Linked DNA regions of Homo sapiens: region 2 is linked to region 1. Evidence: fine-mapped expression QTL. Tissue or cell type: visceral fat. Region 1 holds a variant in brackets; the other region holds the start of a gene. All regions are shown on one strand. Distances are from middle to middle.

The links. PIP is the estimated chance that this variant, and not a neighbour inherited with it, causes the effect.
Region 2: SEPSECS-DT starts here. The variant in region 1 is fine-mapped to the expression of SEPSECS-DT in visceral fat (GTEx, PIP above 0.99).

The regions. Positions count from the first base shown.
Region 1 is chr4:25,130,353-25,135,352 of GRCh38, reverse strand. The region is part of intron 8 of SEPSECS (Sep (O-phosphoserine) tRNA:Sec (selenocysteine) tRNA synthase); the gene reads left to right. Among named protein-coding and RNA genes, the nearest start is that of SEPSECS, 28 kb to the left of the region's middle. RefSeq lists enhancers at 2,747-3,273, 3,274-3,800. The variant T/C (reference allele first, on the strand shown) is at 2,930.
Region 2 is chr4:25,157,653-25,165,176 of GRCh38, reverse strand. It overlaps SEPSECS-DT (SEPSECS divergent transcript), which reads right to left and starts at 4,505. Exons shown (of 2, transcript NR_037934.1): 1 at 4,424-4,505. SEPSECS (Sep (O-phosphoserine) tRNA:Sec (selenocysteine) tRNA synthase) reads left to right here and starts at 4,728. Exons shown (of 11, transcript NM_016955.4): 1 at 4,728-4,921; 2 at 6,070-6,224. The coding sequence starts at 4,808. RefSeq lists an enhancer at 4,465-4,764 and a silencer at 4,875-5,044.

The DNA of each region.
Region 1 (5,000 bases):
TTGATTCTTCTCTCTTTTCTTATTAGTCTAGCTAACAATCTACCTATTTTTTATTAATTTTTTAAAAAAACCCACTCCTGGATTCGTTGACTTTTTTTTTTTTTTAACGGTTTTTCGTGTCTCTGTCTCCTTCAGTTCCACTGTGATCTTGGTTGTTTCTTGTCTTCTGCTAGCTTTGGGATTTGTTTGCTCTTGGTTGTCTACTTCTTTTAGTTGATGTTAGAATGTCAATTTGGGATCTTTCTGGCTTTTTGATGTGAGCATTTAGTGCTATAAATTTCCCTTTTAACACTGCTTTAGCTGTATCCCAGAGATTCCAGTATGTTATCTCTTTGTTCTCATTAGTTTCAAAGAACTTCTTTATTTCTGCCTTAATTTCGTTATTTACCCAGGAGTCATTCAGGAACAGGTTGTTCAGTTTCAGTTGTGTGGTTTTGAGTGAGTTTCTTAACCTTGAGTTATAATTTAGTTGTGTTGTGGTCTGAGAGACTGTTATGATTTCAGTTCTTTTGCATTTGCTGAGGGGTGACACTTTTAAGATTTCTATATGCTGCCATTATAATGCCAAATAAGCATGTTATTTAGTATTTCTTGCTTTTGTTCTTGACTTCGAAACCATAAATAAAAATAATAATATGCCATATTTACTACAATAAACTAATGTAAGTCTTGAGTAATTTTGTAGTTAAACTTATTTAATTAGCAAATTAAACTGAGAGTTTGAGTGTACTCTTCTAAAAAATTACTATTATGTGTCTGAAATGAAACTTGGTCCTTAATTATGAGTACTTTGGTAGAATAATGCCCCCTTGGAATTTGCCATCCATCCCTCTATTCTTAGCATCCCTTACTTGATATATAGTAGATGCTCATCATATGTTTGTTGAATGTATGAACACAGGGTATTTAAGAACACCTGGATCAAATGTTGTATAATCATCTCATATTTTATATAGAATAAGTGTCTTTCTGGAAAATTAGTCAGAAAGCAAATTTTATACACACACACACACACACACACACACACACACATTTTTAAAGATATGGGGTCTTGCTATGCTGCTCAGGCTGGGCTTGAACTCCTGAGCTCAAGCAGTCCTCCCACCTCAGCCTCCCAAGTAGCTAAGACTATAGGCATGTACCTCTGTGTCCAGTTGCACATAATATTTTGATACCGATTTCCATTGTGAATTCTATGCACTTTTTTTTTTTTTTTTTTTTTTTTTTTGAGATGGGGTCTCATTCTGTCACCCAGGCTGGAGTGTAGTGTCATGATCATGGCTCACTGCAGCCTTGACCTCTCTGGGTTCAGGTGATCCTCCCACCTCAGCCTCCTGAGTAACTGGTGTCCACAGGTGCATGCCGCCATGCCAGTCTAAATTTTTATTTTTTTTTACTTTTTGTAGAGACAGGGTTTTGCCATGTTGCCCAGTTTGGTCTCGAACTCCTGAGCTCAAGCAATCCTCTTGCCTCAGCCTCCCAGAGTGCTGGGATACAGGCATAAGCTACTGCACCAAGCCTTTTTTTTTTAAGGGAATAATCTACTGTATATTTCTATGTTCTTATAGAAACATTTCTCTAAATATTCAACTATATGGATATAGTCAAAAACTTGTGAAAAGGAATGGAGATTACCTGTTGTATATAACAGGCATTGTACTTCCTGCCTAGCAGAAGCACTTTTCTAGCCTTAAGATTTTGGAATTGTTGATTTTAGGGATTTTGTCATCTTTTTGGAATTTCTGTTATGTCTTGATGTTCTGTCTTGTGACATTTAGGATTTTGACTTTAAGATTTTTGACTACTTGTAGATGATTGATTCCAAAGGCCCATGCATGTGTACATTTTGCTTAGCATGAGTGAAAATCCATCTCCTTTGGAAATGACCTGCAGGAATATGTAGCTCAGCTAGTAAATGAATCCAGCAGGCAGCTCAGTTTCATTGGGACTTTGTTCTTTATTATCACTGGGTAAACACTTTATGGGAGAAATTTTATGTTGGAGTAGTATTCATGAATTGGATGCCTTCATCTCAGATGTCAGGAGGTAACTCTCTTTGTAACATTCAGAACTTTGTTCTTTTCCTTTTATCTAGATATATAGAGTAGAGTAGAATAAACAGGAACAGGACAAGAACAGGATTATAGCTACAGTGTATTATCATGTGTCTGTAGGAGTCCTGCTAGCTAACTTTAGTTTTTTTTAATCCTGAGAACTCTTTTAGGCTAGGGGAAAAATAGGTGGGTGGGGAGCTAACATTTTTATGAATGTCTCTGCTGTATGCCAGGAACTGTGCTAGATTCATTGTACTTATTATTTCCTGTAATACCCAGAGCAAGTGTATGAGGTAGGAATTATCCCCATTTTGCAGATAAAATTGAGGCCCAGAGGAGTTAAGTACTCGCCCAAGTACCACTTATAAGTACCAGAATTGCCATTGAAACCCAGGTCTGTGTGATGCTAAAGTCTGTGCGCTTTCCGTCTTACCACTTTCTTGTCACTGCTTCCAGTCACTCATCCGTTGTTGAGGGAGTGATCACTGGCCCTGTGCTAGGCATTTGAGCCATAAAGATGATGATCTTGTGACCCTCCCACTCTAGTGGAGGTATGTAAAACCCCAAAAGCTCTCTAATGTACTAATTGGTTTTATTTAAAATTCTCTGTATAGAATTTATAAGAGAGAATATCTCTAGGAGTAATTTTCAAAGTATTACGATGCCCATTTGAGAACTCTGTCACTGTAAGTTAAAGTTTGCTTTTTTAACAACTTCATTTAGTAGGCAGGTTTCTCTGTTGAAAAATGTGGATGTCCTCCATAAACCATAATTGCATATATGTAGCATAAATATTGTTTTTTTATTGGATTTGTTGCAGAAATAAGGGCCTCTTTTGTTTAAATGGACTTGCTTTTGAACTGTGAAAATTTAAT[T/C]GTGATAGTTTATTGGTTCAGCTCTGGAGAAGCTGAGGCAAAGCTATTTTGCTCCAGCCAGAGCTATTTATATACCATCACTGAGAGCTCCTTTTTATATTATTGGTGTTATTGTGTACTAAAAAAAGGAATGTTAGAAGAAAACTTAGAATTTTTTTCATTCTATGCCCTTATTCACCACAATGATATTTTTAGAGGTTATTTCATCTAGCTCTATCTCTTCAGAAAAGGCTTTATCTTTTTCACAGTAGTGGCAGACAAGAACTCAGCTTGAAGCCATTCCTTCTTAAGCTTTCTTTTTTGAAGGGTGAAAGGATCAGAGAGAGTGGAGCTCTGTGTGTGAATTGAGCCTCTTTGCCCTTATCCCCTTCCTGATCAACACATTTGCTTCATTGAGGGGAGAAATAACCATGAATTTAACCCCTTTTAAAAAAGAGGTGAAAATGTAAGACTGTATCTTTTAGTTTGTCTATGCAGAAAGAAAGTCTATGGTCTTAGAAGTTTATCCTCACTTCTGTTTTGCTTCTGGAGAAGATCATTATTCTGTTTAGCTTTCCTTTTAGAAAAGTGCTTTGCTGAACAGGGAAGGCAGGTAATCATTTATTGTTGCAAATATCTGCTGAATTGGATAAGAAGAATAACAGCACTATGGCTGCTCAGTGGCTGGAATTTGTGAGCTAAGAACTGGGGGACAAACTAAGTTTTAAAAGAACATCATACACTTCAGTGTCCTTATAGCAGAGCTAAGTTTGAAAACACTACTAGATTTGCAGCCCTGTAAGTGGAGTAGTTGAATCTCTGCAGAAGCATCTGATTTCAAGCCTACATATGGGGCCTTAACAACTTGAATGCAGATGGGTGTAGCCTCTGAGGCAAGATTCGCCACTTGCTCCTGGATCCTTTTAGGTGGCCACAGTCATAGACAGCAGCATGTCATATTTAGTACTGTTTTCCTCCAATATGGACATCTGTCTGCTTCAATATTTACCTACTCTCGGTCATCCATCCATCCATTCATGTTATCTTTGAAATAGTAGACTACTGGGTATGTTTCTTTTGGTTTATTACCTGCCTTCTGAAACATATTGTAATAATATGTGAGGTTCCATTTTTATTTTATCCTATAACATGAAACAGTATGTTTCCAAAGGTGTGATTACATAAGACCGTTTCACATAAAATTTAGTGAATTATGCACATCTTTGGATTCTGGGAGAGACGGGCTAGATGTCGGATTTCATGACTACAAATCAATTTGCAAAAGGCCATATGAAAGATAATGCTTAATATAATTCAACTTCTCTTCCATTAACATCTTGAACTGTGGTGTAAAGTTTTGTATTTTTATTCTAGAAATATAGCTGACATTAGCATTCAGGTATACAGTTCAGTTTATCTCTAGTGAAAAGTCTCTTAAAATTAAGTTAAATACAGCACAGAGAACATGGAAAATCAATAATATTTCATTTCTTTTAAGTAAGATCTTTCTATATACATTTGCTTGGGTTGCTTATAAATTTCTTTCTTTACAGAAGTATTTTATAATAAATGCCAGTTATAGATTTAACTGTAGCAAAAAATAGTACAGGTTCGGTAGTAGCTTTAATATATCAGGTAAAAAACTGCTTAGCTAAGTATTAGTGTAGGATAGTGGTATAGTCTCCTAAACGATATTTTTAAAATGTAGTAATATTAATAGGAGAGCATTTAGGAGCTTAACATGTGGAATATTATAGAATTCAGCCTATTGTGCTTTAAGATATTTAAAACATATTTGCTTATTGGTTTACTTATAACCCTTTACACAGAGTAAACATATTGTAAATATTTGTTGATGGATGTGAACTTGCTTCAAATTTTTTTAAATCTAATTACTCCCGTACTAGTGATACGAGATTTAATTACTTTAGTGTTATCCTCGTAGTCTAAAAATACTATCCTAATATTACCTACAGTTCAAAAGGAATTCTAGTGGCATTAGCAAGTGATTGATAGAACTGGTAAAAACTAATTTGTTAAAGTATTAGAAGTTGAACATTGGGCAAATTCACTTTTTAATAGCCATGTATGC
Region 2 (7,524 bases), 29 kb before region 1:
GCTTTTCTTTAAATCCAAGATTTAACACCTGAGGATCTGGCCAATATATGTATACATTGATATATTTAGGTTAGGTAACCCTGAATCATATGCATTCAAATGAATCCTAAATTCTTCTATAAATAGTTGCTGGTCTTGTTTGGAAGTAGAGAAATTCTTGATTATTGCTCTTAATTCATCTTGGGTGCAAAGTTTAAATTCTGCAGTTGCCTGCATACCTGGCTTTTGAGGGGAGAGGGATCTTTAGAAGCAATTGACATTTTAGAGTTTTAGGAGAGTTGTTGGGAAAATGCAGGAGTCCTGGACAAGAGGAAGAGAAGGGGGGAGTTGATGGAAGGGAAGAAAGAGAGCTATCAGAAGGCTAAGGGATAAGAGGGACATCTGGATATAGGGAGCCAACGCAAAGGGGAAGATTTACTAGGAAATGAGTCTAGTTTGTTGTTGCTTAAGATGTCAAATTGCTTGTTAGCTTTAGCCAAAGCATCTTTTAGTGGAATAATTCTTGAATCAGAATTTCCTTTGGAGGCCTCTGTGTACCACTAAAAAACTGTTGCCCATCAAACCTAAGAAATCTTAATTCCCTTTCTTTTCTTGCCCATCAAATAAAAAATTTTGTCAAGTCAAGTGTTTCCCAGAGTGGCCACTGAAGGCCCAACTCCTCATTGCTGAAGTTATGCCACTTAGAGAGATAGGCACAAGCATTAGGATTGTAATGAGAGTATGTATAAGAAGCAGAAGTTTTTCCTGGTGGAGAGGATTTAGACTTAGAGCTGGCTACGGTGTTGAAAGTTATGCTCGTGCTTATCCTGTCTCAGTCCCCAGCCTGATTTTTGCCCCTTTTGAACACAGACCGAACAATCTGTGCCCCCTGGCAGGCAGAATATCAGAATGACCTCTTTCTTTGGATCAAAAGCAAGCCCTCAGAACAAAAAATCAAGATGAAGGGAGAACTTCATCCAGTTTTATTGGTGACCCACAACAAAATTTGTCCAAACGGATGTAGTCTGGTGAGAACTGCAAACTCATCGGTCTGTGAAACTGGCTTAAACAACAGGGTTGTAGGGCCCATGGCCATGTTCTACCCTATGATTCTCCTTCTTATGGAAAATAACACTTTTAGATAGCACAATACAAAACAGAAGTACAAAGGACAGCACAAAGGATGAAAAGGAATTGCCTGATTCCACTAAGGATGCAAATAGGAACCAGTAACAAAATCTGAGTACCAAACTTCAAATGAATAGCTTAGGAACTCAAGGCAAACAGGGAGGAGTTCCAAGCCAGCACTGACTTACCATGTTGGCATGGACTTGACAAGCCATAAGCAACAAGGCACGAGGAGCCCCTGTGGGCACCACAACTGGCCAAAGGCTGAGGTCCACCGCCATGGACAGCACAGACCATGTCTCAGTGAAGTCTCCAGGAAAACTGGAAATTCAGAGCGTGCTAGAGAAGGGAGTCAGTCACCATCATTTACATTTGTCAAGAGTCTCAAAGGCAGGCAGGGGAGTGGGAAAGCTTTATAGTGAAAGATTCAGGTACAGGGAAGAATTCAGGTGTGCCGATTGGAGGTGTTGGCAAGGAGAAGCTAGAGGTTGGCTAACTAGAAACAGGGCATCTTATGTAATTTAAGGAGGATATTTAGCTTTCTCTGGTTGGTCTTAAGTTAGAAGCGAGTAATAAAAGAGGGAAGCTGGCAGTCATTGCCCAAGTCTTAACCATTCTTGGCTGATTGCTGCAGAGGTGGTGGTTTGGAAGTCTAGTTGCTAGAGAGGTTGTGGGTGAGAGTTCTGTTATCACATATGATCTGGCCATTGTCCATTTGTATAGTCAGTCTATCTAGGGGAAGATGTCATTGAGCAATTACCTCTCATTTAATCATCATAACTGCCTCTTCCATATCCCCATTTTACAGATAAAGCAAAGCTCAGGAAGTTTGAGTAATGTATTTAAGGTTATACAACTAGTGACCCTAGCAGAATTTAAACCTGTGTGTTCTGGACCTATTTTAAATGATGCTTCATCTTGTAAAGACCATGAGGTTATTCTGATGTTGCCCTATTAAAAATAGTAATTACATACTATTATTAAAAATAGTAATTACATACTATTTTAAAATAGTAGTTACAAACTACTATTTTAAAATAATAATTACATACTATTTTTAATAGATAGCATCATTTAAAATAGGTCCAGAACACACAGGTTTAAATTCTGCTAGTGTCACTCATTGTATAACCTTAAATACATTACTCAAACTTCTTGAGCTTTGCTTTCCTGATCTGTAAAATGGGCATATGGATAAATACTTGTTGGGTGAGTGAATGGATGAAAGTAATTTTAGAATACTTCTCTTGAAATTGCTTCCAAAGCTGGTATCTTTTGAATACCTTTAATGAATGCATATCTTGACAATGACTAACTTTTTGGAAACAGACAAACATTTTTCTGAAGTAAGGTGGTGAATAAGGTAAGAGAAGAAGCTGGCTCAAAAACCTGGCGTGTCCATTCAGTAATGACATTAATTTTGGGATTTTTGCACATTTTGCATGTGATTGACAAAGCAGCTTTGAAGGCTTTTCCAAAGAAGAAGTTGCAAAAATAGTTGCATTTTGAGAATAGGAACACAACTTTCCAAAAGTTTGAAAAATACTCATTTTAGAAAGTATGCTAAATTCTTGTTGTTTTGTGGTTTACCTTTCTGTTTAAAGTAGTTAAATGCTCTATGTCATTCAACAAATATTTATCAAACAGCTATTATGTATTTAGTGCTGTGCTTTGAACACAGATATTGGTATAGCCCTTGTGAACCAGGAGTTCACAGTCTAGTTGAGACAGAAAATTAACAATTGAAATGCAATTCAACAAATACCATAAATAGACTGATTTATATTAATAGCTGGATGCCATGGGAACATGCAGTAGAAACAGTGATGAGCTGGTACATGTTGAACAACTGACTTCTAGGGGAGTGGGTTGGAGTGTAAGGGCCTGATTAGCGGTGTTTACTGATTTCCATGGTGTAAATGCTCCCACCATGGCCAACGTGACATCATCAAAAGAGGAGTTGGAAGATGTGCAGTAGTATAACATTACATTGAATTTCCACCATATAGATAAAATGCATGTAAATAACCTGAAGAGCATAGATAATAGTAAAATGTAAAATAATTAGGAAGTGACAAATTTTGAGTATTTTTACTTTTGCTTGTAATATAATTTTTGAGTGGCTGTATTTGAAAACTAGCTCACAAAATTACTGAACATTTAACAATCAGCTCTTGCAAGTGGGTGTGACTCAGTGCAAATGGACAAACCACCAGGTGAAAGCAATGTCAGGAATTACTGTAGGCTCACATAAGATGAAGATTGTAAGGAAACTGGAGGCAGGGATCTCCAGCAGTGAACCTCTAAGTTGTTGAACTGTTACAGCACTGCCAGGTTCCTATGCCGGCTGTGCAGAAACAGACCAGTATTCCGACAGCAGGCTTGCAGCAGAGAAAGTTTTAATAATCACAAGTTACAAGCCAGGAAACAGGAAGAGTTCTCAAGCTTCAATCCATTTCATCAAGGGGTTCTAGGCAAAGTTTTTTAAGGGGATTTGTGGAGGGTGAGGGGCTGGAAAATTTGGGGTTATCGATTCGTTGGGGTAAGGGAGATGAAATCATTAGGATGTGACAATTGCATTCCTCCATGAATCAGCTTTTTATTGGGCCTTCCAGACAAGTTGGCGTCCTTAGTTTTGTTGGTATGCGGGACCTAAAGAAGCAATGCAAACAGAAAGCTTATCTTCTCATAATGTCTTAGATTTTATCTTCAGAGCAGAAAAAGAATGAAGAGTCTTGTGACAAGGGCCACATTCTCCTGGGGTAGTAAGTAGCAACCAGCTACAAGAAAGTCGGCCACACTGCAAGCTGGCTTAATAACAGCAGCTGTAAGCCTAGTTGGATTTTTTTCCCCTCCTTAATCAATTTTACAAAATGTTCTTGGGGATAGTTTCAGAATGGTCAAACTAATTCATTAATTCAATATCAACTTTTTTTTTAGGCCCTACTTTATTCTGGGCACTGTTTTAGGTGCCCGGGGGAAGGGGGCACCGCAGCAAAAACCGAGGTCCTGCCGTTAGGTTAGAGAGTTTACATTCATGGGTATGGGTGTGTGTGTGTGTGTGTATAAACAAACGTCTGGCATGTCACGTGGTGAGTAGTAAGTGCTATGGCTAAACAGTAGTGTCAAGGGGAAAATGAGTGGGGCACTGCTATTTCCTATGGGGTTGTGAGGCAGTAATAAGTGTGGAAATGTATCAAAGTAAAGATCGAAGGTTCTGGCATCTGACAGTTTGAATAAGGCGGAAGCACAGACCCTGCACAGATCTCAACCATCCAACAGGACTGAAACACAGAACTTGGAAAAACCCACGTACCTGCTTCTTACTCTGCTCGCCCGGTCTGCACAAGTGCAAAATCCTTTCCTGAAGTTTGTGTCAGGAACACCAGGGTTTAACTAGACGAATCAGCCGCAGCGGGGCGGGGCTAATTTCAGTCCTTCCTTTGCCAAAAGTCAGCGAAAAGCGCGGACTCCCTCGCGCATGCTCAAATACGCCAACTTCCTCCTGGAGCGCCATCTGAGAAGGTCTGCGCATGTGCACGAACGAGAAGTGTTTTTTTTGTTTTGTTTTGTTTTGTTTTGTTTTTTGTCCCAAGGCGCTGCCGTACCGTCCAGGCGGCGAGTTGCATTCTGGTTCCGTCGTGTGTCTGGCGTGTGGAGCTAGTGCTCCCGCTTATTCGCCACTGTCGCCACCGCTGTCATGAACCGCGAGAGCTTCGCGGCGGGAGAGCGGCTGGTGTCGCCGGCTTACGTGCGGCAGGGCTGTGAGGCCCGCCGCTCGCATGAGCACCTCATACGGCTGCTTCTGGAGAAGGTACCGAGCTGTCGGTCCCCTCCCCAGCCGCCGCGACCCCGGGGCTCTGGCTCCGCCGGGCGTCCCCGCTGGTGCTGCCTCACCGGCAGCTCTTCGCTGCTTGAGACTAGTCCCAAGTCTGTCTCAGCTTGGCTTGCCCTAGCTGACCGACTGCGGTCTGTGCCTTCTCAGCCTTGCCAAAGCCAGTGAAAGCCAAATGGTGTTGTTAGGAGGGGGTGTTGGGGTCGGGGTTTTGAGTCCCGCTGTTTCTAACTTCGGGATGCGGAAGTGAGGGAAAGTCCCAGTGTACTTTTTTATTCGCGGAAAGGGCAAAGTTCGCACCTCCATCTTTCACCAACCCTCAACGACTCAGAACACATAATGGTGTTTGTAGACTGTATGCTAACTCGAACCACGAGCTTTCCGCGGAACTTCACAGGTCTCCCTCCTGCCAGCGTTCATGTATTTTAATTTCATTAAAAGTTTTGTTGTGTTTTGTTTTTTTGAAACAGAGTCTCGCTCTTTCGCCCAGGCTGGAATGCAGTGTGACGATCTCGGCTCACTGCAGCCTCCGCCTCCCGGGTTCACGCCATTCGCCTGCCTCAGCCTCCCGAGTAGCTGGGACTACAGGCGCCCGCCACCACACCCGGTTAATGTTTGTATTTTTAGTAGAGATGGGGTTTCACCATGTTGGCCAGGCTGATCTCAAACTCCTGACTTCAAGTGATCGGCCATTCTTGGCCTTCCAAAGTGCTCGGATTACAGGCGTGAGTGAGCTACAGCGCGTGGCCAAAATTTCACTGAAGTTTGACAACTACCGCCCTTCTCCACGTCCCACCGCCCCAGTCGTAACGCCCTGGTTTGAAGCATCTTCACTGGGGATGTGTTGTATTGGTTTTCAGTTAGTTTCACTTACGGAAATTTAAATATCTCAGTAAACCTCATTGTATGCATTTATCATCACTTCTCGAAATCTGTAAATAATTGTAATCAAATGTACAAACGTTTTGCCTCTTTGCGGTCTCTATACAGTGGTGAATTTATGCTTGAATTTTAGAAAACAAGCAGCGTGGCAAAATACACGTTAAAAAGAAAAACTGTATTCCTGTAGTATTCTAGAGAACGGTAGTTTTATTAAATATAATCATAAGTTTTTTTTTTTTTTTAAGGGCAAGTGTCCAGAGAATGGCTGGGATGAAAGTACACTTGAACTCTTTTTACATGAACTTGCAATCATGGACAGCAACAATTTCTTAGGCAATTGTGGTGTGGGAGAAAGGGAAGGGAGAGTGGCATCCGCACTGGTTGCTCGTCGTCATTACAGGTATCTTTTTTTAAGTAGTACAGGAGATACATCGTTTATTTATTTTTGGTTCAAAATAATGGCAGCAGTATTTATCTTATTAGATTATCAAATGTCAGTTTGTAAACCACTTCTTCCCTGCTCTAATGGATATGTAAGCCAAATGCAACAGGGAGATGGAAACAATTTTATCTCAGCAGGTGCTTTTCAAAGACAATAGAGTAAAAACTAAGTGGGGGTTACCCTGTCAGGTTCTGGGTGACTAACACAGGCTATACGTTTTCTTAGGAACGGTTACCCTAATAAACATATCTGGTTGTAAGAGTTCAAAATCCATTAAGGTTGTTTATAGCTTTCCATATTTCTTTTCTAACATTTGTAGTGTTTTTTTTTTTTGAATGATTTATAGTTATCAACTTTAAATTTTGTTTTAAACTGTGTTTAAACTGAATCTCATTTTATAAATACCTCTGTTGCAATAGATACAGGGAAAGGTGTATTAGATTATTAAGTGACCTTTTTCTTTTGCATTATTGCAGAAAGCTTTTCATCAATTCTGATAACGATTTAATTGGTAGTTAATTGGTAGTTAATATGATCACTCATTGCTCTGTCCACTAACCTTTCTGTGAAGTGTAAACTCTTTTAAATGAAACTCCTGTCTTCCATGCTTTTACATTATAATGAAAATTTCCTGGGCATCGTAGAATTTGTATTTCAGTAAAAACCACTGCAGTCAAAACTGATGATAATGCCTAACTTGGATGAAAATTTCAGTTAACAGTTTGCTGATAACATGGTTGATAATATATGTAAGAAATGTTTTGTACATGAGATTTCAGTGGTGAGGAAGTACAGCACTAGTATTCTTCGATAATCCTCCTATACCGAATTTCTGATATATTTGACTGTCAATTAGAAATTACTCAAATTACGAAAGGGTTTTTTATTTTAAAGAGTATTGAGAGGTATCTTTAAACAATGTATAATATTGTCTAATTTAAAATGAGATTTGCACACTGATTTTCTAGGAGCATATAGTTCTTTTAAAATTAAGGCAATATTTGAACCATCATTGGAACTTAGCCCAGTGTGGAATTAGGGGAAAAGTAAAGAAAAAAGATAATTTGGCCGGGCACGGTGGCTCACGCCGGTAATCTCAGCACTTTGGGAGGCCAAGGCGGGCGGATCACGAGGTCAGGAGATCCACACCATCCTGGCTAACATGGTGAAACCCCGTCTCTACTAAAAATACAAAAAAATTAGCCGGGCGTGGTGGCGGGCGCCTGTAGTCCCAGCTACACGGGAGGCTGAGGCAGGA